Linked DNA regions of Homo sapiens. The protein of the gene in region 1 purifies or fractionates together with the protein of each later gene. This does not show direct contact. Each region holds a gene or a part of one and is shown on either strand. Other genes may lie near its edges.

Region 1 (3,500 bases):
TTAATAATATAACACATAACAGTGTTCTGAAAGAATGATATTGGCTTGTTTAGCATGGGCTGTTTTAGTTCGGAACCCCTCAACTGGCTCATGCATTAAGCTGAATGGATTTTGCCACTGCTTTTATCTAGTGGAGTTATTATAGAACTGCACTTAGCACAAAATCATCACTTATAAATTCAATTTATCTGTATTTTCTCAGCCTACAACAATCAGAGTGGTACTAACCTGGCACTAACAAAATGGAAGCCCTAACAGCTCATAGCAGGACTCCATTATAGACACCACTGAAAGGAAATCCAACATTGATATTCTCTAAGAATGCAATACTTCTTCAAATAAATCCATGGACTACTCTAGCAACAGAGGTAAATAGAGTTTTCCTTGCTTTCCTTTTTTTTAACTTTCCATTTTGATTTAATTTAGTACTGAGAACAAGCAAGTATTAAAGTGATAACATGTTTTCCAGAAGAAAATATATTTTTAATCCTTAAATAAATAAGAGTATTGCTTTTATTGTTGTTGCCTGCTTCTAGTCAGAGTTCACAAAAAATATATACTATAACTTTAAGTCTATTTTATATACTAATAAAGTGGTTTTGTTTAAAATTAAATATAAATTAATTAGAAAGAAACCTTGATAGAATTACTTTCATAACTTTTCACTGGATACCCCTCTATATATCCTTGGCAAGCCAGGTAAATATACAATAAATAAATTAACAGAAATTACAAGGAATTCCAACCATATTTAATAATGAGTAGGTATCATCAAGGTATTTCTAGAATATCTACTGTCTCACACATTAGGAAAAAAAAAAAACCCAAACAGCTCAGTGTAAGTGTAGTGTAAAAGCTTAGGCTCTGAAGCTGGATTGCCTGGGCTCTACCACTACTAAGCTAACAGACTTAAAACAAGTTACTAATACTTAACATCTCAGGCCTCGGTTTCCTCATCTATAATATGGGCGAAATAAAAATAACAACTTCATAGTGTTGTTCTGATGTTTAACTGTTATTGTTGCAAAGTACTTTAAAAATTTCCTGTCACATTTAAAAAAACACTCAATAACTATAATTATTAAACGTAATGACAGATACAAAATTTATAGGTTGAACATTCCTAATTTGAAATGCTCCAAATTCTAAAACTTTGAGTGCTGACATAATGCCACAAACGGAAAATTCCACACACAAGCATTTAACATACTTCATTTTATGAAAATTTATTTAAAATATTATATAAAACTACCTTTGACTATGCGTATAATGTAAAACAAATAAATTTCATGTTTAGACTTGGGTCCCATCCCCAAGGTATCTTTGATTATGCAGATATTCCAAAAATCCGAAAATACTTCTGGTCCCAAGTATTAAATACTCAAACTGTATTTATTTATAACAGCCTGAAAAATAAGAAACCAATAAAGAAGCTAAAATGAAAATGATAATCACCTGTGCTGATGAAGCGCTTTCCTGTCAATTTCCCAAGCTAACTCAGTAGCAAATTCTGGCTGGTCAGTGTGGTCCACAGGATCAGTAGCCAACTGTTCTCCATCAAACTTTGCTTCCACTACAAGCATATGCTTTGGACGTTTGGGGAAATGCCGACCTGGAGAAACAGAATATATAGATTAATCAAAAGTGTACAAAAATCAAACAGGATCATTTACCATGTGTTTTTTTGTTTGGCTGGTTTTTTTTTTTTTTTGAGATGGAGTCTTACTCTGTTGCTTAGGCTGGAGTTCAGTAGCGCAATCTCAGCTCACTGCAACCTCCGCCTCCCAGGTTCACGCGATTCTCCTACCTGAGCCTCCCAAGTAGCTGGGATTACAGGTGCACACCACCAAACCCAGCTAATTTTTGTATTTTTAGTAGAGACAGGGTTTTGCCATGTTGGAACTCCTGACTTCAGGTGATCTACCTGCCTCGGCCTCCCAAAGTGCTGGGATTACAGGCATGAGCCACCATGCCCAGCCTAGCATGTGTTTTTTTAAAACTAATGATCTGTTAAGTGTGGTTGACATGCATTCCATAAGCTACCTCACTAATGCAGGCTCACATATACACTCACTTCCATAATTCATAAGAAACATGAATCAAATGGAAAGCTATAATTTATAAATGTGTGCTTCTCAAACATTAGTGTGCACATGAATCACCTAGGGACCCTGTTAAAATGTAGATTTTGACTCAGTAGATTTAGGGTGGGCCTAAGATTCCGCATTTCTAACAAGATCCAAGGTGATGTGAATGCTGCTGTCCTTGGTCCACACTTTGAGTAGGAATGATCTCAACAACATCTGGAATTAAACACTTAATGTGATTACACGAATTTTAGGTACTACTATTGCACTACTTAATAGAGAACAGTCATCTGAAGAGCTGGGAAATAAATTAGTAAAAACAAATTTGCCTGCAGCTTAATTTTTCTGTTAACTCAGTTAAGAATACTTTCCTGGTGAAACCCCGTCTCTACTAAAAATGCAAAAAATTAGCCGGGTGTGGTGGCATGCGCCTGTAGTCCCAGCTACTCGGGAGGCTGAGGCAGAACAGCTTGAACCCGGGAGGCAGAGGTGGCAGTGAGCACTGCACTCCAGCCTGGGCAACAGAGCAAGACTCCATCTCAAAAAAAAACAAAAACAAAAACAAAAAAAAAAAAACAGAATACTTTCCAAATTAGCTAAAGAAAAATAGCCACATGGATTCCTTCATTCTATTCTCAAGGACAACACTGTACACTATCAGGAAATATTCAAATATTCTATCTACACATCACTTTTCATTTGTACTGCCAAACCCCATTTCATCAATGTTTACTGAAGACATATTCAGAGTCAGGTATTTTATCAGATGGTGGGGTACAAAATGAGTAAAACAGAGTACTTGCTCTAAAAAAACTGAGGATCTAGTTAAGAGAAACAAACCAAAAAAAACTGAAAATAGGAAGCTAAAGAACATCAACGAAGAAGCACTAAGAATCTTGCACTGAGTCAACTAGTTCTCTTGTTTATAAATCTGTTAAGGTGGATCTTATTGAGGGGAATTTTATCCATTGATTAATGAAGAAATCCCTGCTGCTACTCACCCTGGTACAAGCTACTTGTGGGGGAAGTGTAGGAATTAAGCTGTTAAAAAGACCTTGACTGCTAACCTTGTGAGTTAAAGCCTGAGGCTCTCATTGAAACTCTGTATTAGGAGTATTAACACACATCGCACAGCTCTCCCAATTAGCATTAACAGAGGCCCATCTCAGGACCTCATTTTCTGCTGCTCCAAAAGATACCTAGCTTCCCCAAATGAATGTCATATATGTCAAAGAACCTATATTTTCCATATTATTATAACTAGCAGCTTCCAACAAGCTTGAGAACAGAGGATGTGAAGGGAACAAACAGATGCCTGCCTTGCTGCAGACAATGATACAGAGATAACAGAAATGGTCTTTTTCATCCTTGGAATCTAGTACATAGCCCAAATTTTGTTCATGGTAAAAGCTT
Region 2 (3,500 bases), on another chromosome or scaffold:
ACCGCACCCAGCCAATCTTCACTTTTAAAAACAGTTAAAGAACAGTTACTACCATTAAACTTTATCTTAATGCAATGAATAAAGTGAACCCAATCAGCTGTAAGTTCCATGAGGACAAGAATTTTGCCTATTCTTTTTGCAGCTGTTTGCCTTTTAAATTACAAGGGCTCCATAAAAAGGTGCTGAATGACACTTACCATTAAGAATATCCTCAAATCCAATAGTCTCATCATTACCCCTCAAAACATCCAGTGAAAGATTTGAGCTTGAAAGAAATGGAAGACGCTGAACCTTTGGGGAAAAGTATGAAGGGACAAGATTAGAAAAAACTCAGGGGAAAATGACAGAATATATAGTCTAATTTCATGTTCTTTATTCTTTGTTTGAAAATTCGCAAAACCAAATACAAGATCAATTTAACAAGTGGAAAAAAACACTAGTTCATATTTTAGACACAAACTAAGTTGTAAAGACACTGAAATTATACTTTTCATTAACAATAATCCTACCTGGTGTGCATGTATTTTGAGGCTTTGCTTCTGCTCAGGAAAACTACGGCATATACCATGTAATGAAATGCAAAATCCCAGAGCTTAACATCACGCCTCATTCCTGATACATGTAGGATGATCAAATTCCTGAAGAAAGTCCAACTCAATAGGTTGCTTAGGCTGGTCTCAAACTCCTGGGCTCTAGTGATCCTCCCACTAAAACTGGGATTACAGGTCCATGTCACCAAGCCCAGCTAATGCAGATAATTTTTGATATTCCCACAGACTACCAAAATAGGTGGTCTTTGACTAAATGATAGTAGTATTTTAAAGATAATCACACCGTTAGAATCTAAGAGGGCAGTTTCTCACATTCCCCCCACCCCCAACAAAATGTATCCAGACTAAATATATTATTTTCAATTACTAATGTTCCATAGAGATATTTAAAATCTTTATAGTGTGGAAAAATTTCTCTAGATTGTCAAACCTAAAAAAAAAAAGGAAGTGGGAGGAAGAGGAAGAAACAAAAATAGGAACCTGTAAATTAAACCAGACAGCAAGGGGTCTGGTAGTTAGATCAGAGTACAGTCCTAAGAATGCATCAAAAGCAGGGAGGAGCAGGCAGCTGTTATACATCTTGACAACCCAAAACTGCAAAAGTATAGAGATAAGAAAAAAAAAAAAAAGACAGAGAATTCTGGGCAAAGATATTTGGATCAAATAGTATTAAAAACTTAAATCCAGAATTTGAGCAATCTGTAGTTGAAATCTGAGTAAGAGGAAAATAAAAAGGGAAGCTAACAATTTTGTGCCAAACATGTGATTTCATTTAATCTTCAGAATAATCCTATGCTACTCTTACTGTTCTCCTTATTTCACATTAAATTAAAAAATCTAAGGTTCAGAAAGCTCTCCAGCTTACTCAAGTTCTTAAGACTAGTAGATGGCTAAGCCAAGATTCAACCCTAGGTTACTCAAAACCATGTTTTTTAAGAGCTTTATCTTTGGAAAACGAGTAGCTTCCAGAATGACTTAGCCAAATACAATTGATAGTATTAGTAGAATTTATCTTATTATTATTTTTTTTGGAGATGGAGTTTTGCTCTTGTCGCCCAGGCTGGAGTGCAATGGTGTGATTTTGGCTCACTGCAACCTCTGTCTCCTGGGTTCAGGCAATTCTCCTGCCTCAGCCTCCCGAGTAGCTGGGATTACAGGCACATGCCACCAGGCCTGGCTAATTTTTGTATTTTTAGTAGAGACGGGGTTTCACCATGTTGGCCAGGCTAGTCTCGAACTCCTGACCTCAGGTGATCCATCTGCCTCGGCCTCCCAAAGTGCTGGGATTACAGGCATGAGCCACCCAGCTCGGCCAATAGAAATTTATTGAAAAAGACAATTTAGCTAGGTCAGAGAAAGGAATCTGCACCAGTAGGAGAAATGTGTGCAAACGCCTAACAGTGAAAGAACTTAATGAATTAGGAAACTGCAAGTAGTTTAAGAGGATAAGAAGTGTGGTGGGAAGCAAGGAGCCAATTCATGGACAGAGCCACACTAAGTGTTGGGTTTTATTTTTATTTAGAGGGTAAAGTGAGGGGAATGACATAATCAAATCTGTGTTTTACAAAGATTATTCTGATTAGAGTCTTAACAAGGATTGGAGGGGCAGCAGGGATGAGTGTTGCAGTAATCCAGATGAAGTCTGACAGGGGCAAGGACCAGCATAGTAGCAATGGTGGGGAGAGCAAGTAATAAACTGAATGATTTGGGGGAGCAGGGGAAGAGGTTAGGATGGGTGCTAGGTGACATAACCAAGGCTAATTATCCAATTTCTGCCTTAGGCAGAAACCTATTCATATGGGATAAGGAGTATGTGGGGGATTATGGGATTATGAGTTATTCTGTACTTGTCCATGTAAAACTGGAGGTGCCTGTGGGACTTCCAATTGGGCTTTCCAATTGGAAAAGCCTATAGGTTTATAGCTCATGAGAATTGTAACTTGGGGGTCATCAACATATTTTATTTTTTGAGACGGAGTCTCATTCTGTCACCTAGGCTGGAGTGTAGTGGCACGATCTCGGCTCACTGCAACCTCCGACTCCCAGGCTCAAATGATCCTCCCACCTCAGCCTCCTGAGTAGCTGGGACTATAGGTGTGCACCACCACGGCTGGCACATTTGTTGTATTTTTTTTTGTAGAGATGGGGTTTTGCCATGTTGCCCAGGCTGGTCTTGAACACCTGAGCTTGAGTGATCCACCCACCTTGGCCTCCCAAAGTGCTGGGATTACAGGTGTGAGGCACCACGCCCAGTTGGAATCATCAACATATAATTGATAACTAAAGCAACAAGTAGGAAATAGGGTCAGGAAAGGACTAGAGATGGGGCACTAACAAAACTGGCATTTTAGGAAACAGGCAAAACAAATGGAACCTACACAGAGACACCTGAGAACAAGGATTCAGAAAGGAGGACATCAGGAAAGTGTGGTGTTCTAAAAGCCAAGGAGGTGGGATGATAGCTTGAGGCCAGGAGTTTAGGACCAGCCTAGGCAACATAGCAAGAGCCCGTTTCTACAAATCATAATTTTTAAAACTAGCCAGGCGAGGTAGCAAGTGACTGTAGTCCCTGCTACTCAGGAGAGTGAGGCAAGAGGATTGCTTGAGCCCAGGAGTTTGAGGATGCAGTGAGCTATGATCATACCACTGCACTCCAGCCTGGATGACAGAATGAGATCCTGTATCAAAAAAATAAATACAAAGTAAAAACATAAAAGCCAAGGGAAAAAGGAAGAAGCCATTATTAGTGTCAAATACTACAGGGAGATGAAGTAAAGTGAAGGTAAAAATGTCCACATTGTTCAGGAGCAGTTTCATTGGTGTCATGGGAGACAGAAACAGTGGGTTAAATAAATAGCAGGGAAAGGAGTATAGAAAGCAAATGTAGACAACTTTTCAAGAAGCAAAAGCACACTCAATGAGAGACAAGTTACTATAAAGGAATTTGAA

The links. Proteins that work in one complex are often made in the same cells at the same time.
Region 2: the proteins of CEP120 (region 1) and POMP purify together in Homo sapiens (affinity purification with mass spectrometry, with the first as the bait; one large-scale study listed by BioGRID). This does not show direct contact.

Annotation. Positions count from the first base shown.
Region 1 is NC_000005.10:123,416,904-123,420,403, forward strand, and holds part of CEP120 (centrosomal protein of 120 kDa), read right to left. Parts: intron 1,613-3,500; coding exon 1,456-1,612; intron 1-1,455. UniProt on the Homo sapiens protein: Plays a role in the microtubule-dependent coupling of the nucleus and the centrosome.
Region 2 is NC_000013.11:28,669,130-28,672,629, reverse strand, and holds part of POMP (proteasome maturation protein), read right to left. Parts: intron 292-3,500; coding exon 198-291; intron 1-197. UniProt on the Homo sapiens protein: Molecular chaperone essential for the assembly of standard proteasomes and immunoproteasomes. Degraded after completion of proteasome maturation. Mediates the association of 20S preproteasome with the endoplasmic reticulum.